Homo sapiens: one gene and its partners. The protein of the gene in region 2 purifies or fractionates together with the protein of the main gene of each other region. This does not show direct contact. Each region holds a gene or a part of one and is shown on either strand. Other genes may lie near its edges.

The links.
Region 1: the proteins of RAB8B (region 2) and NOCT purify together in Homo sapiens (affinity purification with mass spectrometry; 2 studies listed by BioGRID and IntAct, with this or other methods). This does not show direct contact.
Region 3: the proteins of RAB8B (region 2) and CHM purify together in Homo sapiens (affinity purification with mass spectrometry; 2 studies listed by BioGRID and IntAct, with this or other methods). This does not show direct contact.
Region 4: the proteins of RAB8B (region 2) and GDI2 purify together in Homo sapiens (affinity purification with mass spectrometry; 3 studies listed by BioGRID and IntAct, with this or other methods). This does not show direct contact.

Annotation. Positions count from the first base shown.
Region 1 is NC_000004.12:139,039,055-139,046,743, forward strand, and holds the end of NOCT (nocturnin), read left to right. Parts: intron 1-4,019; coding exon 4,020-4,289; intron 4,290-5,584; coding exon 5,585-6,420; 3' UTR 6,421-6,885; downstream 6,886-7,689. UniProt on the Homo sapiens protein: Phosphatase which catalyzes the conversion of NADP(+) to NAD(+) and of NADPH to NADH. Shows a small preference for NADPH over NADP(+). Represses translation and promotes degradation of target mRNA molecules.
Region 2 is NC_000015.10:63,255,386-63,263,415, forward strand, and holds part of RAB8B (ras-related protein Rab-8B), read left to right. Parts: exon of another isoform or gene 1-121; coding exon 122-199; intron 200-1,119; coding exon 1,120-1,209; intron 1,210-4,241; coding exon 4,242-4,307; intron 4,308-7,306; coding exon 7,307-7,357; intron 7,358-8,030. UniProt on the Homo sapiens protein: The small GTPases Rab are key regulators of intracellular membrane trafficking, from the formation of transport vesicles to their fusion with membranes.
Region 3 is NC_000023.11:85,953,226-85,961,255, forward strand, and holds part of CHM (rab proteins geranylgeranyltransferase component A 1), read right to left. Parts: intron 5,753-8,030; coding exon 5,636-5,752; intron 4,751-5,635; coding exon 4,630-4,750; intron 3,154-4,629; coding exon 2,928-3,153; intron 1-2,927. UniProt on the Homo sapiens protein: Substrate-binding subunit of the Rab geranylgeranyltransferase (GGTase) complex.
Region 4 is NC_000010.11:5,781,702-5,789,731, forward strand, and holds part of GDI2 (rab GDP dissociation inhibitor beta), read right to left. Parts: intron 4,350-8,030; coding exon 4,151-4,349; intron 3,573-4,150; coding exon 3,441-3,572; intron 1-3,440. UniProt on the Homo sapiens protein: GDP-dissociation inhibitor preventing the GDP to GTP exchange of most Rab proteins. By keeping these small GTPases in their inactive GDP-bound form regulates intracellular membrane trafficking.

The DNA of each region.
Region 1 (7,689 bases), on a different chromosome or scaffold from region 2:
TGTTGGGTGTGGTGGCTCATGCCTGTAATCCCAGCACTGAGATGGCTGAGATGGGAGGATTGCTTGAGCTCAGGAGTTTGAGACCAGCCTGGGCAACACAGTGAAGACTCCATTTCAAAAAAAAAAAAAAAAAGCCATTCTTAGCTTGAGGACTGCCAATCCTTGCTTTAGTAGATTCCTCATAAGGGGCTCATGGAGACAATATTCCAGTTTTGCTGGATATAAAATCCTTGGCTTACACTTTATGTATTTTAAATATGTTACTTCATTTTCTTCTCACATAAAACATTGCAGTTGAAGTCTGATGACAATCTGATTTTTTTTTTTACTAGACCACTTGGTGTTGGTCATTCTGGGTTGATACTCTCAAGTTTGCAATGTCTTTTTTTCAATATCTACTTTTTAAGTATTTTTTTTTAAGTTTTCTTGATTTCTTTTGTTCCCTTTCGTTGGTCTTCATCTATAAGAACTGCTATTACTCATATTTTGGGTCTTTGCTCATTTTTAGTATTTGTCACTTTCTCCCTTTTATTTTTTTTTAAAAAAAGCAATCCTTAGGTTTGACTCTGATCTTTTTCTCATTTCTTTTTAATTTTTATTGCTAATTCTTTTTGGTGTCTAATTTCTGAATTTTCTAATTCTGATTTAGGTTATTCTTTCATGTCTTGTATCTTTTTGTTTTGTTTTGTTTTGAGATGGAGTATCGCTCTATTGCCAGGCTGGAGTGGAATGGCGCCATCTCGGCTTCCTGCAACCTCCTCCTCCCGAGTTCAAGCGATTCTCCTGCCTCACCCTCGCGAGTAGCTGGGATTACAGGCGCCCAACACCATGCCTGGCTAATTTTTGCCTTTTTAGTAGAGACGGGGCTTTGCTACGTAGGCCAGGCTGATGTTGAACTCCTGACCTCAGGTGATCCGCCCGCCTCAGCCTCCCAAAGTGCTGGGATTACAGGCATGAGCCACCGCGTCCGGCCTCTTGTATCATTTTCTTTTTTTTTTTTTTTTGAGACGGAGTCTCGGTCTGTCGCCCAGGCTGGAGTGCAGTGGCGCGATCTCGGCTCACTGCAAGCTCCGCCTCCCGGGAGCCTCCTGCCTCAGCCTCCGAAGCAGCTGGGACTACAGGCGCCCGCCACCATGCCCAGCTAATTTTTTTTTTTTTGTATTTTTTAGTAGAGACGGGGTTTCACTGTGTTAGCCAAGATGGTCTCGATCTTCTGACCTCATGATGCGCCCGCCTCGGCCTCCCAAAGTGCTGGGATTACAGGCTTGAGACACCGCGCCCAGCCTTGTATCATTTTCTTAAAGACTTAGCTCACTCTGCAATAGGATGCAGTTTGATTTGCTTCCTGGGCACATTTCTGGCATGCTTTCACTGTCTGATATTGTTCTATTCTTTATTCTCTTCATGTGAAATTGATTTTTCTAAATTTTTAGAAGGAAGTGTGGTTCAGGATTGCTTTTCTGATTTCACGTACTCCTCAAACGTTTGACTCCCATTGGACATCCTTCCTTCTGCACATTCATTTTTGCATGGTAGTTTTTTCATATAACCACCCTAAAACTCAGCTTGGCAAAGATAAAATGTCATCAAAAGGAATGTAGGGCAGTCCTATTGAAACTGAGCTCTACATCAAGCCCAGAGCCTGACAGGTGTCAAACGTCACTGTTTATTTCACATTTAAAATATAAAATATACCATGGTGTCCCTGTGAGTTTGCTGTGGTTCCCTGGGACACGTTAGCTCACAATTTGGGGATCACAATCCCAGGTGATGCTGATATTGCTGATCAGGAGACCACACTTGGATGTTTGGCTGTTTTTTGTTTGTTTTCCCCAAAAAACCTACAGGAAGTAAAAAAAAAAAGTACAAGAAGAAAGACTTTCAAAACTTGTACTGCCAGCCATGAAGAAAATTTCTTCCTTTGGACCCATGTACTCATGTATTTATCAATTAAAATGAAATTATTGAAATCAGTTTGGAAACAGTTGTATATGTGTGTATTTGTGGGAGAGCATGCTTGCTTGCAGATGCACACACACCTGCTATGTTTGTTGGGAAAATTAGTATGTGTTCATTTGCTGTAGTCTAGCTTTCTTACTGGAGGGAAAAACTACTTTGAGTAGACAGGAAGGAACAAAAAAAGCATGCTTGCATCCTCATTGACCTTAATGTTCAAGGACATTTGGTGGTAAATAATTGAATTTCCTTTGTAACCTGCCACAGTGAATTTGATTGACTGCTAGTTTGAGATGTGATTGATAAGCCTGCCAAATTTTATAAAGAAAACTTTATATAATGTTTACATTTATAAAATGTTTATGTTTTATAAAGAAAACTTTGTATCTCTCAAGAGAGGGAAATCCAGATTGCCTGGTACCAGCATTTATCATACAGAGAATCTTGGATGTTACTCCCAGTAAAATGTGCCCCTAATTTATACTATAATGAAAATAAAACATAGTTGACCTCTAAAAGAGCAATCAACTGCTTTCAAGTGAACTGCCACATAATGCTAATTAGTTGAAGATTATGCTCTGTTCTCCTTAATGAATTATAAAAAGCAAAACACTAAAAATTAACTCGGGAAGACAAAGTAACTGGTGCTTCCTGCATTTTTCCTTGTTCTTTGTCTTTCTAGGATCCCAGGAAATGTGGGCAACTCATGAGAAGGTAGTGCCCTGGATGGAAGTTAGCTGAACAAAATCAGCTTACTCTAAGCCCTTCTGGCCTCAGCCCCTTTTCTGGATTTTAAGAAATCCAGCAATTGATACAAGATTATAGAGTATACCACTCAGTGAAGTTCAGAGTTCTACTACAGAAAGCCCAAGCCTTGATTTACACTTAACATCTAGGAGAAATGGGAAAGAATCTAGCCATTACTTTCCCCAACAGAGGGATCTGTATAGATGAGATGACCAGCGTAGCAAGCAGCCTGCTATTACCTAATCTCTCACCCAGGATTAACATTAACATGGGCTTTCTAACATTTCACTTTTTACAAACTAGTCTTTAAGATCTTTTTTTTTTTTTTTTTTTTGAGTCTCGCTGTGTCACCCAGGCTGGAGCTCAATAGAGTCACCTCAGCTCACTGCAACCACCATCTCCCTGGTTCAAGCAATTCGCCTGCCTCAGCCTCCTGAGTAGCTGGGATTACAGGCGCACACCACCACACCCGGCTAATTTTTTATGTTTTTGGTAGAGGCAGGGTTTCTCCATGTTGGCCAGGCTGGTCTCGAACTCCTGACCTCAAGTGATCCACCTGCCTCAGCCTCCCAAAGTACTGGGATTACAGGTGTGAGCCACCATGCCCAGCCTAGTCTTGAGGTTCTTAAGATATATAGAAAAAGGAATGTAGATTTTGTTAAGCCTTGCTCTTTTTTTAAGACTGGTTTTATAAATTACAAAGACAAATCCTAGGTTAGAAGAGGCCATCAAGATCAAAGTATTTCTTCCTTAAAAGGATGAGTTTTCATTGTTAATCAGAGGCTAGTTTTAACGGTAGTACTTAAATTAACTGTCCTAGTAGAAAGCTGGAACCTGGAAACTCCTTTATTCTGCCTCTGTAGAAATGGCTTTATACGCCGGGCGTGGTGGCTCATGCTTGTAATCCCAGCACTTTGGGAGGCCGAGGCGGGCAGATCACCTGAGGTCGGGAGTTCCAGACTAGCCTGACCAACATGGGGAAACCCCATCTCTACTGAAAATACAAAATTAGCAGCGGGTAGAGGTGCATGCCTGTAATCCCAGCTACTTGGGAGGCTGAGGCAGGAGAATTGCTTGAACCTGGGGGTGGAGGTTGCGGTGAGCCGAGATTGTGCCATTGCACTCCAGCCTGGGCAACAAGAGCGAAACTCCATCTCAAAAAAAAAAAAAAAGAAAAAAGAAATGGCTTTATACACTATTATGGCAACAATTGAGCTCCTGGTTTCGGTGGACAGTAAATGTTTATCTTACAGTTGTGCTGGGCGAGAAGTCAGGAAAAGGAGCTGAGTGTGTAACTGTGATTTCCTTTTCCGTAGTGTGTTCCATGGGAACCGGTACAAGCAGACTCTATAGTGCTCTCGCCAAGACACTGAACAGCAGCGCTGCCTCCCAGCACCCAGAGTATTTGGTGTCACCTGACCCAGAGCATCTGGAGCCCATTGATCCTAAAGAGCTTCTTGAGGAATGCAGGGCCGTCCTGCACACCCGACCTCCCCGGTTCCAGAGGGATTTTGTGGATCTGAGGACAGATTGCCCTAGTACCCACCCACCTATCAGGGTTATGCAATGGAACATCCTCGCCCAAGGTATGCTGGATGCTTTTGTGCCTCTGCAGTCAAGTTTGCTGTGACTGCCTTTCTGCTTCTGCACATCCACAGTGCACTGTTTTATGTGGAAGGAAGAGGTGTGGGCAGATGGAGGTGACTGCAGCAGCATGGAGAGCTCCTAGAAGAGGTTAAGACAGGGAATCATCTGGTTTTCACTTTTTTTTTTTTTTTAGAAAGAAAAAAGACACTTTAATTGTTCTTGGATAGTCTACAAACATGGAAGGTGTAAAGAATAAACCACGAGTTACTTGCTTTAATTGTAAAAACCAAGTCAGGTGCAGTGGCTCACACCTGTAATCCCAGCACTTTGGGAGGCCGAGGTGGGTGGATCACCTGTGGTCAGGAGTTCGAGACCAGCCTGACCAACATGGAGAAACCCCGTTTCTACTAAAAATACAAAATTAGCCGGGTGTGGTGGCGCATGCCTGTAATCCCAGCTACTCGGGAGGCTGAGGCAGGAGAATCGCTTGAACCCAGAAAGTGGTGGTTGCAGTGAGCTGAGATTGCGCCATTGCACTGCAGCCTGGGCAACAAGATCGAGGTTGCAGTGAGCTGAGATTGAGCCACTGCACTCCAGCCTGGGCAACAGAGTGAGACACTGTCTCAAAAAAATATGTATATATATATATATATATATATACACTTTGTTACAGTAGTAAGGACTTCTTTCCTGGGTCTGCCAAATTAAAAAACAGATGTGTCAATCAACTCTATGTAGCATTGCCTTTTATGTAAGCAGTTGAGATTTTAAGAAAAACAAGGGCCTGATTTTTTTTTTTCCTGGAAAATAAGGGGAGATTCCGTGACTTACCAATCTTTGATTCTTTTTCCCTAAGTAGGAAAAGCTGCCTATTTAAAATAAGTTCCATTCATTCTGAGTAGTGTCCATAATAGTCAGGGTTAAAACTAATACTTGGTGTTAAATATTTGGTGTTTAAAAAAACCAAAAAAATTTTAAAAGAAAATTGGCATTTATTTCATTTTATATAGCTTAGATCCCTGGCACTGCAAAGCAGTTTCCTTAAGTAAGATCTTAATATCCTGGAATATAGTTAACATGAAATCATTTCGAAACAAAAGATCTGTTGTTTGCTTCATCCACATAGTGAGAGGTGATTTAGTTTGGATGGGGTAATACAGTTTGGACAGAGAGCCACTCCAAGCATTTAAAGCAGAGGAAGCATTCTGAGGGTCTTGAGTGATGCCAAACCTCCTGGGTACTTTGAAGTCACGGTTTTGTAAGAGCTGACAACTGACTAGCTTTTTCTTTTCAGCTCTTGGAGAAGGCAAAGACAACTTTGTACAGTGCCCTGTTGAAGCACTCAAATGGGAAGAAAGGAAATGTCTCATCCTGGAAGAAATCCTGGCCTACCAGCCTGATATATTGTGCCTCCAAGAGGTGGACCACTATTTTGACACCTTCCAGCCACTCCTCAGTAGACTAGGCTATCAAGGCACGTTTTTCCCCAAACCCTGGTCACCTTGTCTAGATGTAGAACACAACAATGGACCAGATGGTTGTGCCTTATTTTTTCTTCAAAACCGATTCAAGCTAGTCAACAGTGCCAATATTAGGCTGACAGCCATGACATTGAAAACCAACCAGGTGGCCATTGCACAGACCCTGGAGTGCAAGGAGTCAGGCCGACAGTTCTGCATCGCTGTTACCCATCTAAAAGCACGCACTGGCTGGGAGCGGTTTCGATCAGCTCAAGGCTGTGACCTCCTTCAGAACCTGCAAAACATCACCCAAGGAGCCAAGATTCCCCTTATTGTGTGTGGGGACTTCAATGCAGAGCCAACAGAAGAGGTCTACAAACACTTTGCTTCCTCCAGCCTCAACCTGAACAGCGCCTACAAGCTGCTGAGTGCTGATGGGCAGTCAGAACCCCCATACACTACCTGGAAGATCCGGACCTCAGGGGAGTGCAGGCACACCCTGGATTACATCTGGTATTCTAAACATGCTCTAAATGTAAGGTCAGCTCTCGATCTGCTCACTGAAGAACAGATTGGACCCAACAGGTTACCTTCCTTCAATTATCCTTCAGACCACCTGTCTCTAGTGTGTGACTTCAGCTTTACTGAGGAATCTGATGGACTTTCATAAATACTTGCTTTTGTCTTTTTAATCACAGGAGTCTATTTTTTTTTTTTTTTTTTTTTTTTTGAGACAGAGTCTCGCTCTGTTGCCTAGGCTGGAGTACAGTGGCCTGATCTCGGCTCACTGCAAGATCCGCCTCCCGGGTTCATGGCATTCTCCTGCCTCAGCCTCCAGAGCAACTGGGACAACAGGCGCCCGTCACCACGCCCAGCTAATTTTTTGTATTTTTAGTAGAGACGGGGTTTCACCGTGTTAGCCAGGATGGTCTCGATCTCCTGACCTTGAATCACAAGAGTCTTAACAGGGAATGTTTCAGGAAACAAATAGGATAAGACAATGCCAGAGGAAGGATAGAAACATGGGAAGTTTCTATCATTTCATTTTCTGCGTTTCCAGCATGCCCTTGGAAAAGACTCCCTTTAGTCCCTTTTTCAATTAAAACCTATGGTGAAAAAGGCGTTTGCACTCCAATTTTGGCTTGTGTTGTTTTCTTTTCCTTAATATTACATTTTGATCATTTAAGGGCATTAAATTGGCTTGTTTTGGTCAGGTGTGGTGGCTGCTCATGCCTGTAATACCAACACATTGGGACGCCAAGGTGGGAGAATCACTTGAACCCAGGAGTTCGAGTCCAGCCTGGGCAACATGGCACGAGACCCCATCTCTATTTCTAAAATAATAATAAATTCGGTTATTTTGAAGCTTTTTCAATTTGAGGATGCTATAAAAACTTAGACTTGTTGCTTGAATCTTCCATAATAGTATGTAGGAGCAATTTCTCTAAACAGCATTTTAAGTTATTTATTTGTGGGTTTTTAAAATGTCAACAAAATGCATGGCAGTATTTATTTTTTATATCTTCATATAAAATTAAGTAAATTATAGCATTATGAACATTTTAGAACCATGCAAGAGAAGTTATAGAGAAAGTAATTTATGGTGATTTTCATAAAGCTTTAAAATATTTTCATTTGGGCTATAACAAAATGAGTACAAAGGAACTATTTAGCCTGGAGGGGCTTTTGTTATTTAAATGTCAGATTTCTTTGATACATTCTTCAAAAATAATCCTTGTCCTGCCTCTATGTTCCATTATTGTGTTTCTTTTTTTTTTTTTTGGAGACAGAGTCTCACTCTGTTGCCCAGGCTGGAGTGCAGTGGTGTAGTCTCGGCTCACTGCAAGCTCTGCCTCCCAGGTTCACACCATTCTCCTGCCTCAGCCTCCCAAGTAGCTGGGACTACAGGCGCCTGCCACCACGCCCGGCTAATTTTTTG
Region 2 (8,030 bases):
CCTTTTTAAAGGGAAAAAATGGACAAACAAAAGGTTTCTGGAGGGTAGGAGTACATTGACATTATATACTATAACTTTAAATATATAAAGTACTAAATAAAGATATTTTTCCCCCTTATAGGGCATTATGCTGGTCTATGACATCACAAATGAAAAATCCTTTGACAATATTAAAAATTGGATCAGAAACATTGAAGAGGTATGTGTGGAAAGAGAATGGTGACATTGGAGAAGAGTCCTGCTGGGTGCTTGTAAAAGGCTCCTCTGTCTGCAAGGCAGCTGAGCTGCTTAGAAGCAGGGCATGGGCAGGTTGGGCCCTCTCTCTCTGAAGAGCTCCATAAATCTCTGGTGCTGCCAGTCTGACTACTGGGGGTTAGGGGGACAGAGAAGTAACGTCACAAGATTTTAAGCTTGGGCCAGATATGGGAAATAATTTAATCCTAGATCACATTTTACACATGAATAACTGAGAACAGAAAGAAGTGATTTGCCTGTGCTCATACAGCCTTTAAAAAGAAGAGCCAGGATTAAAACATCTGGTTCCCAGCTTCTATCCCACCATGCTGTTTGGCTAGCAACAATTATCTCTTTACCTTGGCAACTTTTTGCCCTTCTGACATTTTCTCCATCTTAGATATTTGAAGATTGTTTTAATTCCAGGATAATTGGTATTAAGATTTTTTTAATGTCTTTGTCACTTAAGAAAGAAATCTGACTCTGAAATAATTTTGTACACGTTTCTATAAACTTAGATGAATTTCTTTTTAAAATAGTACAGAATCTAGAATACCATCTCCACTGGTTCACTCAGTACCAAGTTTTTGTCCTTCTTTGACCTGAATATTTGGAAATTTTGTCATTAGATCACCATAAGCTTTATTTGTGTTTGTTCCACCTTCTTTCCAAACCTCGGGAAGAAGGTTTGCACAGGCTCTGTGAGGGCTCTTGTACTGTAGCTTTGCCCCTCTTCCCATCTTTAAACTTTTCTCTGAATTAGGCCTTGTGTGAGTAAAAGATTATGTCTTATTAAATTCATGTGTTTCTGACAGGTTGGATTTGTCTATTAAGTAACGGGTTTTTCTCAGGCTGTTTTTATAGCATGCTATTTTCTCCCTGCAGCATGCCTCTTCCGATGTCGAAAGAATGATCCTGGGTAACAAATGTGATATGAATGACAAAAGACAAGTGTCAAAAGAAAGAGGGGAGAAGGTAAATGTGAATGGAATGGATAAAGGTTGGAATCTACTCACATTAAGCATTTCTTTTCTTCATATTATTTAATTATTGATTTTTTTTAAAATCTGTGTTTTAATCCCTTTAAATTGGATATCAACAACAAAGAGATGTAATCCATACTTGAATGGTGTGAATTAGTATTCGAGATCCAGCTCTCTATACTGTGTGGTCATGACTCATTCCTAAAGAATTTGCTAATGTTTTCTGGGAGATACAAATTGGTCCTTTCTCAGATTCCTGCAGCTTAGAGTTCAGGCTGTTTCTTCCAGATCTGTGTGAAAATGCCCAGTTTTGAAGTTAAAGTAAACATTCTTTTTGAAAAAGAAGTTATAGGGATAGGTGAAGTTTCAACAGGAATCATTTTCCAATTCATTTTTTTCCCTAAGAATATTTTACTACACATTAGCGTTAGGTTTTATGGATAAATTCCTTGTAACTGATCAAGCTATGGATGTCATTTATATGTTGTTTATGGGCATGGGCATTTCTCTCTTTTGTGTCCTGTAAAGCAAAGGAATATTTTGTGTACATATTTACTTCTGTGACAGATTCTAAATTGACTTAGAAGCTTCACTTTTTAAGTCTTGGAATTTTGCTTTAGCCTTTAAAAAAATTATATATGCAAAATGCATTTTCTTTTCTTTTTTTTTTTTTTTGAGACAAAGTCTTGCTCTGTCTCCCAGGCTGGAGTGCAGTGGCGTAATCTCAGTTCACTGCAACCTCTGCCTCCTGGCTTCAAGCAATTCTCATGCCTCAGCCTCCAAGAAGGTGGGATTATAGGCATGTGCCACCACACACATATACCCGGCTAATTTTTGTATTTTTAGTAGAGACGCGGTTTTGCCGTGCTGGCCAGGCTGCTCTTGAACTCCCGGCCTCAAGCAATCCACCTGCCTCGGCCTCCCAAAGTGCTGGGATTACAGGTGTGAGGCACCATGCCCAGCCACATTTTGTTTTTCAATCTGACTGTGAACTTTTGCTGCAAACTTTTTTCCCCTAAAAACATTTACTTAATTTTAGCATTGTAAATGAACTAGGAACTTTTTGAGGAATATATAAGAGTTCGCAATTTGTCTCAATCAATAGAAATCAAAGCATGAATACTTTAGTATTTAAGTTTTTGTTCAATTCTGGACTCATTTATTAAAATTAATTAAGGCCTGGCGCAGTGGCTCATACCTGTCATCCCAGCACTTTGGGAGGCCGAGGTGGGTGGATCACGAGGTCAGGAGTTCGAGACCAGCCTGACCAACATGGTGAAACACTGTCTCTACTAAAAATACAAAAATTAGCCGGGCATGGTGGCGTGCGTGCGTCTGTAGTCCCAGCTACTCAGGAGGCTGAGGCAGGAGAATCACTTGAACCCAGGAGGCGGAGGTTGCAGTGAGCTGAGATAGTGCCACTGTACTCCTCCAGCCTGGGCAACAGAGCAAGACTGTGTCTCAAAAAAAAAAAAAAAGTAATTAAAAGTAAGTATAGTTTTTTTTTTTTTTATTTGAGATGGAGTTTCACTCTTGTCACCCAGGCTGGAGTGCAATTGCACAATTTTGGCTCACTACAACCTCTGGCTCCCTGGTTCAAGCGATTCTCCTGTCTCAGCCTCCCAAGTAGCTGGGATTATAGACGTCTGCCACCACACCAGGCTAATTTTTGTATTTTTAGTACAGACGGGGTTTCACCATGCTGGCCAGGCTGGTCTCTTAACTCCTGACCTCAGGTGATCTGCCTGCCTCGACCTCCCAAAGTGCTGGGATTACAGGCGTGAGCCACCACACCCGGCCTAAAAGTCAATACAGTAACTGTTGGAGAATTAAACTTTGGGAGCAGATAAAAGGAGTGAATGAATCCCAAGATAATGGTAGTTTTACCAGTGGAGGGTCTTGACTACAAGTCAGCCAGATTCTTGGCATTTTGAGCAAAGAATTGGACAAAATGCACACACACAAACAATGAAAGAATGAAGCCAAAACCACAAATTTATCGAAATGAAAGTACACTCCACAGAGTGGGAGTGGGCTTGAGCAAGCAGCTTGAGCACTGGTTACAGAATTTTCTGGGGTTTAAATACCCTCTAGAAATTTCCCATGGGTTACTTGGTTTACACTCTGTAAATGAAGTAGTGGCCCATGACCAGTTTGATTGGTTGCAGAAGGTGACCAATCAAAGGATGAAATGAAGTTACAAAGTTATACCCTGCGCAGACGTCTGATTGGTTGTGGGAGGGGACCAATCAGAGGTACTTTCCATTTTTAATCTGTGAGTCAGAAAAGGGGAGGAGGTTGCAAAGGGAGTAACCCCTGTACTTTTGTTACTTGGGCATGGAAGGCTGGGGTTTTTCTTTTGATTTAGTTCTAGGAAGTCAATGTGAATTGGCCTTAGGTTCCCTGCCTCCAGACCCTATTCTGCTACCTTAGGAGGGTGGGTATTTATCCCATATTAGAGAACTAAAAGTACAAAAACAGAAAAAAAGAGAAGTACTTAAATTATTATTATTATTTTATTTATTTATTTATTTTGAGACAGAGTCTCGCTCTGTCACCTGGACTGGAGTGCAGTGGTGCGATCTCGGCTTACTCCAACCTCTGCCTCCTGGGTTCAAGCAATTCTCCTGCCTCAGCCTCCCGGGTAGCTGGGACTACAGGCGGGTGCCACCACGCCCGGCTAATTTTTTGTATTTTTAGTAGAGGCGGGGTTTCATCATGTTAGCAAGGAGGGTCTCGATCTCCTGACCTCGTGATCCGTCTGCCTCGGCCTCCCAAAGTGCGTGAGCCACCATGCCCGGCCTTAAATTATGTTTGAAATGGAAGTTGTGCCATCCTTCTTACGATGATTAAGTTAAATTATTAAATTCTGAATACAGTAGAAGAAAGCAAAGAAATTTGAGAACCACAGGAGTTCTGAAATAGATACCCTACCTTTGAGACTTTGAAAAACCTAAGAAATACAAATGCATTATGTGTTCAAGTATCTTTTGCTAAATTTAAATATTTCTGTTTACTTTTCAGCTAGCAATTGACTATGGGATTAAATTCTTGGAGACAAGCGCAAAATCCAGTGCAAATGTAGAAGAGGTAAGAAGGAAACGTTTGGTGACTGTTACGGAGCAGCACCAGTGCTTAGGGGCCTGTGTTCAAACAGCTCTCAGAGCTTTGGTATTTTCTGACCTAATGAATGCCTTTTGTTGACCCAACTCTACTTTGTACACTTTTGTGCTTCTGATTTTTTTTTTTTTGAGATGGAGTCTCACTCTGTCGCCAGGCTGGAATGCAGTGGCATGATCTCGGCTCACTGCAACCTCTGCCTCCCAGGTTCAAGCGATTCTCCTGCCTCAGCCTCCCGAGTAGCTGGTACTATAGGTGTGCATCACCACGCCCAGCTAATTTTTGTATTTTTAGTAGAAACGGGGTTTCACCATGTTGGCCAGGAGGGTCTCGATCTCTTGACCTCGTGATCCCCTCTCCTTGGCCTCCCAAAGTGCTGGAATTACAGGCGTGAGCCACCATACCCAGCTGCTTCTGATTTTTATGTAGACGCTGGTTGTTGAATTTCTAGCATCTAGCCTCCACCTGGATTATATTAGCTTGCTCAGTTAAGATTCACAGAATAGATTATGGAAGTTCAGTTTTGCCCTTTTTTTGGGCAGCTGGAAATCCTGGACTAGAAGACCAACCAGTATCCTGTGCTCATTCATGTCACCCTGTATGCCTGCAGCAGAAGAGTTAAATCACTTTTAAGGCTGTACTCTCTCAAGGGAGAATTAAGCTGTTAGTTTATTGGACACATTCCTTTAGCGTACACATTTGAGGTAGATTAAGCACAATAAATTGTAACAGTGGCATTTAGTGGAAATAGGAAAGTGTTTATCAGGGAGTAGCTTTAATAAATTTTCATTAAGTTAGCTGTTAAGGAAAACCAAACCATCTAAAGTCTTATGAGAATAGGTTTTCTTCAATACCTAACGTAGATGACTGGTTGATGGTTGCAGAAAACCACCATGGCACGTGTATACCTAGGTAACAAACCTGCATGTTCTATACATGTATCCCAGAACTTAAAGTGTAAAAAAAAAAAATAATAGGTTTTCTTCACCAAGGGAACTGTTATTTTTTTTAAAAAACATTTTTTCAACTGATCATAAAAATAATACGTGTAATTTACATGTGATATGTGTTAATACATGTAATTCTTTTAATAATACTGATAGTTTCATAAACATTTAATTTCCTAGGTTACTCATTGTTCATCATAACATGATGGTTAAAAATCGAGACCTACATGACTTTATTAGCCAGTGGACACTGATCAGAACTTTTTCTTTGTTTTAAATAACGTAACAGTTATTTGTTTAGGTTGGCCGATGGGTGTTAGGAAACAGGAAGCCTCTACTGATTTACTTACACAAGCTTAGATAAGCAGAAAAATGCTTCCCTCTGCTTGATACAAAAGGATTTCCCGCCATCAGAAATAATCCAAGTTAAAAATGGACAAAAGATCTGAATAGACATTTCTCAAAAGAAGACAAATAAATGGCCAACAGGTATATGAAAAAATTCCCGACATCAGTAGTGATCAGGGCAATGCATATCAAAAGTACAGTGAGCTATCATCTCACCCCAATTAAAATGGCTTTTATCAAAGAGATAGGCAATAACAAATGCTGGAAAGGATGTAGAGAAAGGGGAACCCTCATATACTGTGGGTAGGAATGTAAATTAGTACAGCCACTATGGAGAACAATAAAAAAACTAAAAATAGAACTACCATATGATCCAGCAGTCTCACTACTGAGTATTTACCCAAAAGAAAGGGAATCAGTGTATCCACCTAAGTGTCCATCAGTGGATGAATGGATAAAGAAAATGTGGTATGTATACACAATGGAATACTATTCAGCCATAAAAAAAGAGTGAAATCCCATAATTTGCAACAGTATGGATAGAACTCCCTGAACTGGGAGTTGCCTGAGCTGCTTATTCTAGCAAGGCATACAGATGGTAACAACTTTGCCAGAGCTTTAAATCAGTGTGGTTAGGCTCATAGGTGACAAGTTTGACAGTGAGACACTGACAATGAGTAATAATAGTAGTTGTCGTATTGTTTTTATTTGATTGGATTGGAAATAATCCTTTTCCTGAACAGTTTTTGGGGATCAGGAGTGTTGGGAACAAAGAGGTTGATTTAACAATAGGTTTAGCATGGTGACAAATGAAGAATCTTTAACAGTTCCTGGCTTCATAGAAAAAGTGATGATGGATTTAAAAAATATTTGGTTTGTATCAAGAGACATTATGGATAAATTATCACGAAGATTAATCAGATTTGCCCTGCTTCTATTCGAACTGACTTCCATGGTGGGGAATTTAGCCGAGAGCTCCAGGAACTGTTGGGATTTTGGAGTAAGACATGGAAGATTATACATATTCAGCTATAAGAGTGAGAGCAATTTGAAAGAAAAAGCCAGAAATAAAAAGTAGAGATTTTTGTGAAGACATTTTAGAGCTATAGGGTAATACATAATTATTTATTCACTCATTAAACCAGATAGTCAGCATTTCCTAGATCAGCACTGTGCCCTGCTCTAGGGAAGTGGGGTAGCTTAGACAGAGCTTCTGTCCTGTTCTTGGTGTACTGAAGAAGTTACTCGTGACTCAACAAGGGTGTTATTGTGATATTATATCACATGAAGAAAATATTTGATGAATGAATGATAGTTTGATAACATTGGAAAATGTTTATGATACAATCTCAAAAGAGTAAACACATGCATACTATGATTACAATTATTACTTTCTTAATGTAAAGCTTTAAAGTGGTATATTTATATTGAAATAATGAAAAATTCTGTATTTCTGTTTTAAAATAAGTCAGGCATGGTGGCTCACACCTGTAGTCCCAGCTACTTAGGAGACTGAGGTGGGAGGATTGCCTGAGCCCAGGAGTTCCAATTCAGCCAGGGCAACATAGCAAGACCCCATCTCTGAGGCGGGGGGAATATATATATGTGTATATATATATATATACATATATATAGTGAATATATAATAATGAAAATGTTTTGTTTTACCTATAGGCATTTTTTACACTTGCACGAGATATAATGACAAAACTCAACAGAAAAATGGTTTGTATCACTTATAATTTTTATTTCCATTATGCTGTCTGTTTGGCATTTGATGAAAAGGATAGGTCTAATTATAAGATACTCAAATTAAACTCATTTTTTTCCTGACTCAGATACTCATTTGGTTGAACTCTGATTCTTAGTTCTGTTTGTTTAGGATTCTTATTTCTGAGCTGCCACTGTTTCAGTCCTTTCTTCTGGCTCTTTAAGTGATCTTTAATTGAATTTTGATGAGAATAATGAAAATAATAATGGCACAAATTCGATTTTTGCCATAAAATTATTCAGTTTTCATGTGACAGGTATTTATATCTGCATAACTACGATTTTGAAGTTGCTAAAGTTTGCTTAAATTTGAAATCATTAAGACAACCTTGAAAGTTTGTTTTATCCTGAGTCCTGACTATAATTGCGTACCTTATGCTACTAACTCTTCTTACCTCTAACAGAACTGTCTATGCCAGTATCTTAACATTGTTTCCATCATTACCTTTGAAACTTTACACTCCATTGGAACTAGAAATAGAAGCTTCCTATTGAATACATTATTGATATAAAAGCTGCTATCGTAAGGGCATTTTCCTCTTTTCAATTCACCATTTCCAAAGAAAAAGACAACATTGGTGCTTAACTAGTTCCCGTTCTAATAAAATACTCTAGTGAATACACATTT
Region 3 (8,030 bases), on a different chromosome or scaffold from region 2:
ACGATTCCTACAATGAAATCTATAAAACACTGATGAAAGATATTGAAGAGGACACAAAGAAATGGAAAACTATTCCATGTTCATGAACTGGAAGAATCAATATTGTTAAAATGTCCATACTATGCTAAGCAATCTACAGATTTAATGCAATCTATATCAAAATATCTATGGCATTCTTCAGAGAAATAAAAAAAATCCTAAAATGTATATAGAGACACAAAAGACCCAGAATAGCCAAAGCTATCCTGAGCAAAAATAATAAAACTGGAGGAATCACATTACCTTATTTCAAATTATACTACAGAACTATAGTCACCAAAACAGCATGGTACTGGCATAAAAACAGACACATAAACCAAAAAAACAGAATAGAGAACCCAGAAACAAATCCACACACCTACAGTGAACTCATTTTTGACAAAGGTGCCAAGAATATACACTGGGTAAAAGACAGTCTTTTCCATAAAGGGTGTTGGGGTAACTGGATATCTGTATGCAGAAAAATGAAACTAGACCCCTATCTTTTGCAGTATATAAAAAGCAAATCAAAATGGATTAAAGAATTAAATCTAATGCCTCAAACTTTGAAACTACTACAAGAAAACATCGGAGAAAACCTCCAAGACACTGGTCTGGGCAAAGATTTCTTAAGCAATGCCCCACAAGCACAGGCGACTAAAGCAAAAATGGACAAACGGGAACACATGAAGTTAAAAAGTTTCTGCACAGCAAAAGAAACCATAAACAAAGTGAAAAGACAACCCACAGAATGAAAGAGAATATCTGCAAACTACCCGTCTAACAAGGAATTAATGACCAGAATATATAAGTAGCTCAAACAACTCTACAGGAAAAAAATCTAATGATATGACTAAAAATTGGGCAAAAGATCTGAATAGACATTTTTCAAAAGAAGACATACAAATGACAAGGAGACATATAAAAAGGTGTTCAACATCACTGATCATCAGAGAAATGCACATCAAAATTACAATGAGATATTTTATTACCCCAGTTAAAATAACTTTTATTCAAAAGAAAGACACTAGCAAATGCTGGCAAAGATACGGAGAAAAGGGAACCCTTGAACACTGTGGGTGGGAGTGTTAATTAGTACAACCACTGTGGAGAACAGTTTGGAAGTTCCTCAGAAAAGTAAAAATAGAGCTACCATACGATCTAGCAATCCCACTGCTAGGTATATACCCAAAAGAAAGGAAATCAGTGTATCAAAGGGATATCTACATACCACATTTGTCGCAGCACTGTTCACAATAACCAAGATTTGGAAGCAACCTAAGTGCCCAGCAACAGATAAATGGATAAAGAAAATGTAGTACAGTTACACCTTGGAGTAATACTCAGCCATAAAAAGAACGAGATCCTGGCTGGGCATGGTGGCTCACGCCTGTAATACCAGCACTTTGGGAGGCTGAGATGGGTGGATCACAAAGTCGGGAGTTCAAGACTAGCCTGGCCAAGATGCTGAAACTCCATCACTACTAAAAATACAAAAATTAGCCAGGTGTGGTGGCACGTGCCTGTAATCCCAGCTACTCAGGAGACTGAGGCAGGAGAATCACTTGAACCTGGGTGGCAGAGGTTGCAGTGAGCCGAGATCACACCACTGCACTCCACCCTGGGTGACAGAGCAAGACTCCATCTCCCAAAAAAAAAAAAACAAAAGAATGAGACCCTGACATTTGCAACAACATGACAACATGGATGAAACTGGAGGTCATTATATTAAGTGAAATAAGCCAGCCACAGAAAGACAAACAATGCATATCCTCACTTACTTGCGGGAGCTAAAAATTAAAACAATTAAACATATGGAGACAGAGAGTAAAAGGATGGTTATCAGAGCCTGGGGCGGGTTTTGAGGGGGCAGCGGATAAGTAGGAATGGTTAATAGGTACAAAACGTAGTTAGAAAGAATGAATAAAATCTAGTGTTTGATATTACAACAGAGTGACTACAGTCAATAATGATTTAATTGTACATGTTAAAATGAAGAGTATAATTGGATTGTTTTCAACACAAAGGATAAATGTGTGAAGGGATGGATACTCCATTTACCATGATGGATTACACTTTGCATGCCTGTATTAAACTATCTCATGTACCCCACAAACACATATGCCTCCTATGTACCCACAAAAAATAAAAATTTTTAAAAATGTGTAAAACAAACAAAAAAAGACACAAACAAGTATTCCCTGAAGATAAAACATGAATGGCCAGTAAACATATGAGAAAAGGTTCAACTTCATAGGTAATTAGGGAAATGAAAAATAAAAATCCAATGCAATGATAATTTATGTGAGTTAGGTTGACAAAAAAATTTTAAATGTTGGCAAACATGTAAAGCTTTGGGTATTCTTATGTACGGCTAAAAGGTTATAATTGGTACAGCCCTCTAGAGAAATAACTGAACACGATGTTGTAAAGTGTTAACATTCATGTATCTCAGGACTGGGGAATTCCACCCCTAGATATGTTTCCGAGAGAAATTCTTGAACATACACAACTTGAAACATACACAAGGGTGTTAACCTCAAAAAACTGGAAACATCCTGTGTTCATCAACAGAAAAATGAAAAAATAGATTGTGGTGTATTCACAATAACATACTATATAGTAATAAAAAATTAACTAAAATTATATGCAATGACAATACTTTCCATCATGCTATTGAGTGGAAAAAGGAATTTATAGTATTTTTATCAAGCTCAAAAAGAGGCCACACTGAATATATCACTTAGGTGGGTAGATAGGTAGGTAAATAGATTATAAAAAATAAATAGAATAAAGTATATATTTGCATATACTAAATCTTGAATAAATCTCATTTTTGCCTGCCTAATTTTCATCTGTTATTCAAGTATCACTTTTAGAAGGGACAAGAAAATCAATGGCAAACTTACCTGCAGAAACACTGGGGGAGTTCTCCTTGGCCATATAAAGGAAACAAAAATGGAGTGTTGCCATACCGCCCAAGACAGTGAAGAAAGTTTTTGGTAGCTTTGAGACCATCTATGGTGCTGCTGGCTGTCTCTGATGTCATTGCAATTGAATGCATGACAATATATTGGAGGTTGGGGGTTAATTTTTGAGTCTTTAAATATTCATAAAATGTGATCTCTTCATATCCTATGAAAAGATGAAATTTTATCACTTAAAATCAGAACTAAACTTCTATTTAAAACCACCCCACAAAAAGGAGATGAAGTGTGTTTCACAGACCTCACAAAGGACATAGGTGGTATTACATTTTGGACACTGATGGTTGATCTTAGGAAAAAATGGAAACAATCTCTCTCTCTTATTTGGAGTAATGGCACAATTTTTAGCTTTAAATGATGAATTATGATTGAGCATTTCATGGATTTAAAAAAAACTAGAAAATATTAAATAACTCAATGGGTTGTCATAGTTGGCAATAATCTCACTTTATTATCATGAAACCTGCAGGATAATGCCAATAATGGTACTGAAAATATTAAACAACTATGACAACATGGGAATGTATTGATTTAAAATGATAAATATGTGAGTTTTGTAAAACGTATACTTCTCACTGATACTCAGAAAATAAACTAAAAAATAATGAAATGAATTTCCATGTGGCTACTGGAATCAGTCTTATGGCCACATAATCACATCAAAACATACGGGACCCCCAGAAGTTACTCCTTTAAACCAAGAACAGAATATAATGTAATTGGACTGTTAGTGGTGGGAAATAAATCCCATGATAAAAGACAAAAACTTTACAGAAATAATTTACATAAATAAAAATTATGAAAATTTACTGAGAGAATTGAATTTTACACAGCCACTGTGGATAACAACATGACAGTACCTAGTAGACTTGAAGCTTTAAGAGCAAGGATTAGACTTTCATTATTTCACAGAGGAAAAAAAATATCGCTGCACTTCTCATTGTAACTTTATAAATAAATTATCAATAGTATATTCCAATTTTGGATAACATTTTCAGACCAATGGACTTAAAGTATATAGCTCTGACACTAAAATGGCATATTCAATTTTTAACAGACAATGAAGTAACTGGCCCCAGATCACATAATGAAATAGGTCAAAGCCAAGAATAGAAACCATGCCTTTTCTGAATCCAGTATTTTTCCCCATATACCATCTAGCCTTTTTTTTTCAAACGAAATAGTTCAAGATTCTATGCAAAAGCAATCCTGGAAAATGATAAAATATATAGTATTTTTACTTATGAGAAAAAATAATGGAATCATGAAAACAGATTATCATCTATGAAGAGCCAGTTGACAGTAGTATTTAAATAATAAGAATAAAAATTAAAATCTAGCATGCCACTTCAGCAATGAAAATATCTGCACTGTAGCCACATGGGGCTATGGGAGCCCTTGAAATACAGCTAATAAGACTGAGAAACTGAATTTATTTTATTTTATTTCACTTTAATTAATTTAAATTTAAATAGCTAAATGTTACTAATGGCTAACCTATTGATAGTGCAGAGTTAGAATGCATTTTAAAACAGTAATAAGTGGCTCACTAAATCAGAGCAAGCATATTAAAATAGTAAGAAATGTCAAATAATTGGAGAGCACTACTTAATGAAAAAAATACCTTTATATTCATCAGGATATTTCTCATATTCCATACAAAATGTAAGAAATTTCATTAGCATTCGCTTTTCTACCATAGTAAGTTGTTTGCTATTAAAGACATCTGCTCTGGAACACGGAACCTGAAAAATATTATGATTTTAAGTTAAGAAACTGCTTCCTAATGATATAACTATTCCAAATTACACTTTTTTCCCCTTTACATATAACAGGATTATCGTTTCCACTCTAGCCAGGCTTTTTCACATCACCGTCCATCAGTACTAATGGCATCTCTGCTAACTTCAGAGCTAATTGTGAGCTTTCTTACTTAATTCTGCCAAGTTACTCCCCATGCCATTAAAAGGCCAACGGCATGTCATCCTAACAGAGAAAAATTTAGCAGTGCTATCTAAAACAAACACTGTGGTTCTCCCTATGTACATGTTAGTACATTTTTATGCCTTTTCTCCAATTAATCTGCCTTTGTGAGTTGATTTTTCAGTGAAACTTCAGAGGCTTAAGAGGGAGTGTTTCCCTTGGCCCCTACAGTTTTGGTGCTGTGAGCAGGATAGCAAAGCTCTGCTCTTCTGGAAGCTGCAGTGAAGAACCCAGGATCTGATCAGCTGTCATAAGGGTAAGAATTTTTTCCCAACCAGGCTCCGGGCCTCCTCCTCTGTGTGGAATCTGATCAAGTGGACAGCAAAAATCACCGTTTCTTTCTTTTCCCTCTCCAAAATCTTGATTAATGGGAGAAAAGGATTTGTGTGACTAGTCTTGGGTATAGTAACTCTGGTGTGCTTTTTGGTTTTTTGTGTGCTGCTTGGTACCAACACCAAGCTGCAGAGTAAGCCATGAGAAAATTAGCACTAGAAATTTTAATTAAGCATTTACATTTGTAAATCACCACGGAGGACTGGAATTTACTGCTTTATGAGGAAAATAACAATCTTATTTGCTTATCTTTCCAAAACAAACCATAATAACTTAAGCTGATGCCCAGTTACAATTCTTGATCAGCACAGTACCTGTTCCACTCGTCCTTCTCGAAATGCAAGAATCCTGGTAATATTTTTAAACTCTGCATATCGACTAACATTAGATTTGATTAGAAGATCAATTAGTAATCCTCGAGAATACAGCAGCTGTACAAAGAAAATATTTTACAAGATAAAAGTTGAAATAGTAGAAAAATTGGAAAACAATAAAGATACATAATTTTGCTATATTTTTTATTATTTGTAGAAACAATCATACCTATAAATATTATAATACATAACACAATCTATTACAGGCTCAGAATTGATTAGCTGAAATTCAAAATTCAAAAAACTTTGCAATCCATAAGTTTTTACAAAACATGTTTAGCAGCAAAACCTGATCCATACTGATAAGGCACTCTGGCTTTGTTTGTCCAAATTAACATAAATATTCATATATTTCACTGCAGAAATAATGTGTTTAGTTAGAGTTCCTCCTCAGACCCTGCTAATAATTTAACCTAACATATAACATATCAGTATATGTACTTCATTACTTTCTAAAATATATTTTTTTAATCTTAATGATAGAATACACCAGGCCCTGAGGGTTTTGGATAAGAATCTATAGTCTTACACAAAGCCAGGTAGTTATAAGAAGAAATCAGTCCAGTGAACCTCCCTACCCCATCAAAAAAAGAAAAAAATATTTGTGATGCATTTACACTGAAAAAGTCAAATTATAAGGTACTTCTGTAATTCTAGAAGTCTGGGTTTATATGAGATATGTCTTTCTCAAAAAGTGAAGATGATGATTATTGCTGGCATGTATGGGAGAAATTGATTTAATCTTTCAACATCTCATAAGTAATATCAGAGAGATAAAATCAATAATGTAAACAGTATTATCTAGCATGTTAACCGTATGGTTAAATGCAACAGATTTGACTATTTCCTATATTAAGATACTCTTAATGCCTATAACTCAATAAATATTAAAAATGAATGTTACATCTATAATAAATAAATGGGAAAATTAGCTTTACTATACAAAGAAAAAGGAATCTCAAAAATCAATCTAAACCATTAGTCTGAGCAACTAATAAGTCAGTAAAGACTATCAGTAAATCAATACCATTCAAGTAAAATTTTATAAACTAATAGTTCAGCATTCTGCAAAACAAAATTGACATCACTTTTTTGAAGCTAATCTGATCATCCTGATTAAATATGGCACGTTACTTCATTACCCTCTTCCTAACACACTACATTACTGAAAGAGACCATGTTTTAAAGAATATATTGCCAATTCTTAACTCTATAATAATGATAAAAAATAGTTACTTCAAAAATCACTTGTTTAAAAAGATACACATTTGAGACTCAAGGATCCCTGCATAGCCATAATAATGTCACAAACATTAAGATATAAAATATGAAACTGCATTTTTATTTAATAAGATCCAATAAACCTTAAGGTTTAATGCCAGCTTGAAAAATAATGCATTTAAGATATCACAAGAACAAAAACAAATTTCAATTAAAATTATACTAGATTTTTGTTTCTGAAGCTCACAAATAATAAATGTGTACATATCAGAATCTAAGCCTCTTTTTCTTTTTTTTTTATTGAGACAGAGTCTCTCTGCTGCTCAGGCTGGAGTGCAGTGGCTCAATCTCAGCTCACTGCAACCTCTGTCTCCTAGGTTCAAGCGATTCTCCTGCCTCAGCCTCCCGAGTAGCTGGCATTACAGGAATGCAATGCCACGCCCAGCTAATTTTTTGTATTTTTAGTAGCACACAGGGTTTCACCATGTTGGTCAGGCTGGTCTCGAACTCCTGACCTTAGGTGATCCGCCCGCTTCAGCCTCCCAAAGTGCTGGGATTACAGGACTGAGCCACCACGCTCAGCCTAAGCCTCTTTTTCACTACCCTCTAAGCGATCTACCACAGTGATGAGGGGCTAAAGAGCAGTGCAATTTGATTACAATAATGGAAATTAGATTTATTAATTAACAATTTTTCCTTAGCATGTTGGTTCCATAATTATTAAGAGTATGGACTTACTTAGAAATGAGCTTTCATTTTAAGAATTTCATCTTTGACCTTCTCTATTAGTCTGAGCAGTATGACACTATACGTATTTTATTTAACTAACCTACCTTGAGCTATTACTTTTTAAAAGGCTATATACATGAATGTGTATTGTCAACTGTAAAGCCCCACAGTATTTAATTATATCATGATGTCTTTGAGGTTGAACGCATATAGAAATGTCAACTAGTTTGGAGATACTGAGTTGGACTTTAGAAAAGAGGTAGGTCTTTGGACGAGCACGGTGGCTCACGCCTGTAATCCCAGTACTTTGGAGGGCCAAGGCAGGCAGGTCACGGGGTCAAGAGATCGAGACCATCCTGGCCAACATGGTGAAACCCCATCTCTA
Region 4 (8,030 bases), on a different chromosome or scaffold from region 2:
ACTGGACTTCATCAAAATGTAACACTTCTAGGCCAGGCACTGTGGCTCCTGCCTGTAATCCCAGCACTTTGGGAAGCCAAGGCAGGTGGATCACTTGAGGTCAGGAGTTAGAGACCAGCCTGTTCAATAACGGCAAAACCCCGTCTACCCAAAATACAAAAATTAGCCAGGCGTGGTGGCACATGCCTGTAGTCCCAGCTACTCGGGAGGCTGAGGCATGAGAATTGCTTGAACCTGGGAGGCAGAGGTTGTAGTGAGCCAAGATCATGCCAGTGCAGTCTAGCCTGGGCAACAGAGCAAGACTCTATCTCAAAAAAAAAGTTAACACTTATGCTTATCAAAAGACCAGCCATAAACTGGGAGAAAATATTCTTAATACATATATGACAAAAGACTTGCCACCATCATACACCAAGATCTCCTACAAGTCAAAAACAGAAAGACAATCCAATCTTTAGAAATGTGCAAAAGACTTGAACAATCACAGCACAAAATTATACAAATGGTCAATAAGCTCATGAAAAGGTGAGCAACATGAGTCAAGAAATACAAATTAAAACCATAATGAGATAGCATTTCACACCCACTTGGGCAATTAAAATTAAAAACTTACAATACTAAATGTTGACAAGGATGTGGAGCAACGAGAACTCTCATACACTGCTGAGTGTATACACAATGACACAACCACTCCAGAACACTGTTTTACAGTTTCTTATGAATTCAGACTTCTATCTGCCACATTAGTCAGCAATTTCACTCCCAGTATTTACCCAAAAGGAAATGAAAACCTATATCCCCACAGAAAGTGTTTTACATAAAAATTTCACAGTGCCTTCATTCATAATAGCCAAAAACTGAAAACTAACTAGATGTCCACCAAAAGGAGAATTATATGCTCATATAATTCATACAAAGGAATTCTACTCAACAATTAAAAAAAAAGAATTGGCCAGGCACAATGGCTCACACCTGTAATCCCAGCACATTGGGAGGCCAAGGTGGGTGGATCACTTGAGGTCAGGAGTTCAAGACCAGACTGACCAACATGGTGAAACCCCATCACTACTAAATATAAAAAATTAGCCGGATGTGGTGGTGCATGCCTGTAATCCCAGCTCCTTGGGAGGCTGAGGCAGGAGAATCACTGGAACCCAGGGGGTGGAGGTTGCAGTGAGCTGAGACTGCACCACAGCACTCCAGCCTGGGCAACAAGAGTGGAACTCCATCTCCAAAAAAAAGAATTACTGACACATGCATCAATATGGATGAATCTCAAAAAATGAAAAAGACACAAATGAGAACATATTGTATTATTCCTTTTACATGAACTTTGAAAACAAGCAAAAGTAATCTATAGTGACAGAAATCACAGAGGTGGTTGCTGGGGATGGGGGGCAGTATTCATTATGAGGTGACACAAGGGAACTTTATGGGGTGAGGAAAATGTTCTATACCTTCACTCAGGTTTTAGTTAAACCCAGGACAGGGATAGGTCTATAAATTTATCAAACTGATTTTTTTTAAAATATATATAGTTATAAAATAAAAAATATAAGAATAGCTACTTCTGCTCGCTTCTGGTGTCCATTTACATGAAATATATTTTTCCACCCCTTTACCTTAAATTTGAGTCCTTTTGTGTCTGGTGAATCTCTTGAAGACAGCAGATACTTGGTTGATGAGTTCTTATCCATTCTGCTATTCTGTATCTTTAAAGTGGAGCATGTAGGCCATTTACATTCAACATTAGTATTGAGATTTGAGGTACTATTCTATTCATCGTGCTATTTGTTTGCCTGAACACCTTGTTTTTTTTCTTCATTGTGTTATTGTTTTATAGGTCCTGTGTGATTTATGCTTTAAGGAGATACAATTTTGGTATTTTGAGAATTTGTTTCAAGATTTGGAGCTCCTTTTAGCAGTTCTTGTAGTGCTGGCTTGGTAGTGGCAAATTCTCTCAGCACTTGTTTGTGTGAAAAAGACTACTTTCCTTCATTTATGAAGCTCTGTTTCACTGGATACAAAATTACTGGCTGATAACTTAAGGAGGCTCAAGATAGGATCCCAATCCCTTCTAGCTTTTAGAGTTTCTGCTGAGAAATCTGTTAATCTGATAGGTTTTCCTTTATAGGTTACCTGAGGCTTTTGACTCACAGCTCTTAAGATTCTTTCCTTCATCTTGACTTTAGTTAACCTGATGACTATGTGCCTAGGTGATGATCTTTTTGTGATGAATTTCCCAGGTGTTCTTTAAGCTTCTTGTATTTGGATGTCTAGATCTCTAGCAAGGCCGGGGAAGTTTTCCTCAATTAATCCCTCAAATTTGTTTTCCAAACTTTTAGATTCTTCTTCTTCCTTGGGAACACCAATTATTCTTAGGCTTGGTTGTTTAACAAACTTATTGGAGGCTGCGTTCATTTTTTTAAATTCTTTTTTGTCTTTGTCAGATTGGGCTAATTCAAAAGCCTTGTCTTCGAACTCTGAAATTTCTTTCTTCTACTTATTCAATTCTATTGCTGAGACTTTCCAGTGCATTTTGCATGTCTCTAAGTGTGTCCCTTGATTTTCAGAAGTTGTGATTATTTATTTATGCTATTTTCCTGGAAATTTTTCCATTCATATCCTGTATCACTTTTTTTGTTTTGCTAAGTTGGACTTCACCTTTCTCTCGTGCCTCCTTGATTGGCGTAATAATGACCTTGTGAATTCTTTTTCTGGCAATTCAGAGATTTTTGTCTTGGTTTAGATCCATTGCTGGTAAGCTAGTGTGACCTTTTCAGAGTGTCAAAGAACCCTGTTTTGTCATATTACCCCAGTTGTTTTTCCAGTTCCTTCTCATCTGGATAGACTATGTCAGAGGGAAGATCTGGAACTCAAGGGCTGCTGTTCAGATTCTTTTGTCCCACAGGGATGCTCCCTTGATGTGGTGCTCTCCCCTTTCCCCTAGGGATGGGGCTTCCTGAGAGCCAAACTGCAGTGATTGTTATTTCTCTTCTTGATCTAGCCGCCCAGTGGAGATAATCAGGCTCTAAGCTGGTACTGGAGAGTGTCTGCAAAGAGTCCTGTGATGTGATCTGTCTCCAGGTCTCTCAGGCGTGGATACCAGCACTTACTCTGGTGGAGGTAACAGGGGTGTGAAGTAGATTCTGTGAAGGTCCTTGGTTGTATTTTTGTTAAGTGCGCTGGTTTTGTATTGGCTGGCCTCCAGCCAGGAGTTGGCACTTACAAGAGCACATCAGCTACAGTTGTATAAAACTGGATTTTTTTTAACTGAAGATCCATGCATATCATTATATGTTAATTTTATTTCAATAAAAATAAAAAGCATCTTATTACTCATAGACTGATCTCATCTCATTATTTAAACTATATCTCATATACACATTATGTTGAAGATGAGGTTTTGGATCACTGAGGTTTTAAACACAGGCTCTTACCTTGCAAATCCTTGGGGCAGTTCTCCAAGGCCATAGAGTGGATAAAGGTATGGGCTTTTGCCATATCTTGCCAAAGATTCACTGTAAAGTTTAATTCTATTAATGGTTTCATAACACGGTTGATCTAAGTAACTGGAAGAAAGGAAATGAGTATTAGGAAAGGGCTTTAGTTTTCATTCATGGTGTTCAATTTATAATTTTTTTTGAAGCGATTTCAATCCGCTATCTTCTTTTTTGTTTTTTTGTTTTTTGAGACAGGGTCTCACTCTGTCGCCCAGACTGGAGTGCAGTGGTGCAATCTCGGCTCCCCACAACTTCCACCTCCCAGGCTCAAGTGATTCTTCTGCCTCAGCCTCCCAAGTGGCTGGAATTACAGGGACGCACCACTACCGCCCAACTAATTTTTGCATTTTTAGTAGAGAGGGGGTTTCACCATGTTGGCCAGGCTGGTCTTGAACTCCTGACCTCAAATGATCCACCCAACTTGGCCTCCCAAAGTGCTGGGATCACAGGCGTGAGCCACCACACCTGGCCCACTACCTTTATATTTAAATCACTTAAAAGGTCCCAACACTAATTTCAACTAGAACCTCTTCATTCATAGTGCAATATGGCTAAGTATTTGTTTTGTTAGAATTTCCACTTGGAAGACTTGGGAAATTTAGTGAGAATTTCAAGAAAAATACAAATCTAAAAACCAAAATACTTACTCATCAGTTCTGTAAAGTGCAAGAGCATGACCAGTAAAATCTATAACGTCTTGACCCAAATCAAATTTCTTATACACATCTCGCATTGTGGTCTTCTTAGGATCAATGCCTTCAAAAGTTCTTGGATCTTTTTCATCGAAGTTGGCAACATACACTAGGAATTTCCTGAAGCGACGTTTTTCAAACAATCCCATTAGGCCTAAATAAAAAAGAATTTTTCAAAAAGCACACTCACAATCAGACATTGAGGAGAACGAAGTATGAGAGCAAAGTTTAAACATGCCTTGTTATCAACTGCGGAATGCAGGATGCAATTTTTTTTTTTTTTTTTTTTTTTGAGACAGAGTCTTGCTCTGTCGCCTAGACTGGAGTGCAATGACGCAATCTCAGCTCACTGCAACCTCTGCCTCCCGTGTTCAAGCGATTCTCCTGTCTCAGCCTCCCGAGTAGCTGGGATTATAGGCAACCGCCATTACGCCCAGCTAATTTTTGTACTTTTGGTAGAAACAAGGTTTCACCATGTTAGGCTGGTCTCAAACTCCTGACCTCAGGTGATCCGCCCACCACGGCCTCCCAAAGTGCTGAGATTACAGGCATGAGCCACCGCGCCTAAAATGCAGGATGCAATTTAAGATATGGGAGTTTGGACAGCATGGCTTCCAGTTTCACAACACCTTAAACTGACACGATTATAACAGGTTACTTATAAAGTCTTCAATTCTACCATACAATTACAAGTAATTAAAACTACTACTTAACTGAATGAAAAATGTCAAATTATGTTTCTTACTAGGTACAAGGTAAATGTGACTCTGAACAAGTATCCATGAAGCCACCCATCTGAAGAGTCTCCCTTTGACAACTCTGATCTACACTCAGCCAATTGCCTAAATTCTGAATGCTCTTGCTTTTCCGCCTCTGTATGCTAAGATACAACCGGGCACTTAATGATAACAGCTTAAGATAACAAGAACAAATTGACCTCGATAAAATTTCGATGCTGCTGCTACTGCTGCTAGTCACTTATTTTACTGAAGTCCTACATAAGCAACCAATTCGCTGCATTTTACACTAAAAAACAGATGAAGAAGCTACAAATTACCACTTTATAAATCCTCAGCTTTTATTACTAGGCTGTATTTCAACTAATCATAGATGATAGACAAATAGCCAACAAAAAAGAAAATTTTCTGATTTTATCTCCCTTCTCCCCCCATTCCTAAGCTGTACAGCTATTTTTAAAATACAACTACAGTTTTAAAAACAAACTCTCAAATGTTTCTATTGACAGCTTAATGTTTTGATAGATTTAATATTACATCCAAGATCATTTTCCAGCCAACAAAACTGAAAATTAAAACCATGAGGCTGGTCAGGTCGTAGTGGCTCACGCCTATAATCCCAGCACTTTGGAAGGCTGAGGAGGGTGGATCGCTTGAGGTCAGGAGTTCAAGACCAGCCTGACCAACATGGTGAAACCCCATCTCTACTAAAAATACAAAATTAGCTGGGTGTGGTGGCGCACGCCTGTAATCCCAACTACTTGGAAGGCTGGAGCAGGAGAATCGCTTGATAAACCCAGGAGTCAGAGATTGCACTGAGCCGAGATTGCACCATTGTACTCCAGCCTGGGCAACAAGAGTGAGACTCCGTCTCAAAAAAAAAAAAGAAACATGAGGCTATTAATGACAACTGACTACATTTAATTTTTTAAAATTAAGATTTACAATTCAGCCTTTTAAATGGACAGAATGTACACACAGTAAAGGCATAAGGCTGAATAGAAATATCCTATTACCACATCAGCACTATACTTAAGACACAAGTGTAGTTGTAAGAGCTGGGTATAAGACAGGCAAAAGGAAACATGAATCACTATTTCAATGCACTTAAAACTTAGGTATCATATTCCGGTCGGCACAGCCTGTCAGAACTTAAAGCTATTACTAACAGTTATTTTGGAGTATCTCCCAACTTTTGTTTATTTAATAGAAACCTGAGTTGCTGTTACCAACTTTTGTTTTAATCAAAATAAAAATCTATCATGTTTCCTTCTCTTTCCTCTCCTTTATTTTCCTCCATTACCTGATCCTTACCCAGAGAGGGATAGAAATCAGTGCCACTCCTGTTTTACACAGCACAGTAGAGACGTCCTGGCTGTTTTTCCATCCCTTAATTCCATGTTGCTATGCATGGCGCCAAATAGTGATCTCAATGACTAGCTGTTAACAGCATGAGAACCAGATATAATTGTATTACAAATACTTCAAACACCCAGTGCTCATTCTGAAAAACTCCTAATTGAAAAAGTTCAAATCAATAACGTGTTTCCTACTGTGTTTTTTTTTTTTCCATAGAAACAAGGTCTCGCCATGTTGCCCAGGCTGGTCTCAAACTCCCAGGCTCCTAAAGTGTGGAATCACAGGTGTGAGCCACTGCACCTAGTCCCTACTAGGTAGATAATTTTTTACAACTACTATTTATCTATGCTGATGCCTTCCCAGATCACTTTATTTAAAGCGTCCTTCTCACACTCCCTCCTTCCTCTTTCCCCCACAGCAATGGATCACCATGGGATATGCCTTTCTGTATTTACAGTTGTCCCTTGAATAACACATCTGAACTGCCACTTTTTATGTAGATCAGAGGTGTCCAATTTTTTGGCTTCCCTGGGCCACGTTGGAAGAAAAAGAATTGCCTTGGGCCACACATAAAATACACTAACGATAGCTAATGAGCTTTAAAAAAATTGTGAAAAAAAATCTCATGTTTTAAGAAAGTTAACAAATTTCTGTTGGGCTGCATTCAAAGCTACCCTGGACCACATGCAGCCCATAGGCCACAGACAGGACAAGCTTGATGTAGATTTTTTCTTGTCAATAAATGTACTGAAAAAATTTTTGGAGGTTTGCATGTTTTTTTTTTTTTAAAAGGAGTCTCACTCTGTCGCCCAGGCTAGAGTGCGCAGTGGCGCGATTTCGGCTCACTGCAACCTCTGCCCCTGAGGTTCAAGCAATACTCCCACCTAAGCATCCCGAGTAGCTAGGATTAAAGGCATGCACCATCAGACCTGGCTAATTTTTTTTTGTATTTTTAGTAGAGATGGGGTTTCACCATGTTGGACAGGCTGGTGTCAAACTCCTGACCTCAAGTGATCCGCCTGCCTCAGCCTCCCAAAGTGCTGGGATGACAGGCATGAGCCACTATGCCCAGCCAGGTTTGTTTTTTCTTTCAGTTCTACGTTTTATTTTACTTGATTTTTTTTTTTTCCTTTTTGAGATGAGATCTCTGTCACCCAGACTAGAGTGCAGTGGCGCAACCACAGCTCACTGCAGCCACCAACTTCCTGGGCTCAAGCAATCTTCCTGCATCAGCCTCCTGAGTAGCTGGGACTACAGGGTATTCAGCTAATTTTTCTTCTATTTCTTGTAGATACAGGGGTCTTACTATGTTGCCCAGGCTGATCTCGAACTCTCGGGCTCAAGTGATCCACCCACCTCAACCTCCCAAAGTGCTAGGATTACAGCCATGAGCCACAGTAGCCGGCCAAATGATTTTTTTTTTAAGAGATAGGGTCTTGCTATATAAGGATATATCGTCCAGGCTAGAGGTGCAGTGACTATTCCCAGGTGTGAACATAGCACAGTACAGCCTCAAATGCCTGGGTTCAAGCAATCCTCCTGCCTTGGCCTACCAAGTGGCTAGGATTACAGGTGCACAGCAACATGCCCAGCAGATTTGTGACAATTTGAAAAAACTTGCAGATGAACCGCATAGCCTAGAAATACCAAAAAAATTAGAAAAAAGTTATGTATGTCATGAATGCTAAAATATATGTAGATATTATTTACTATCATAAATATATGCAATTCTATTTCAA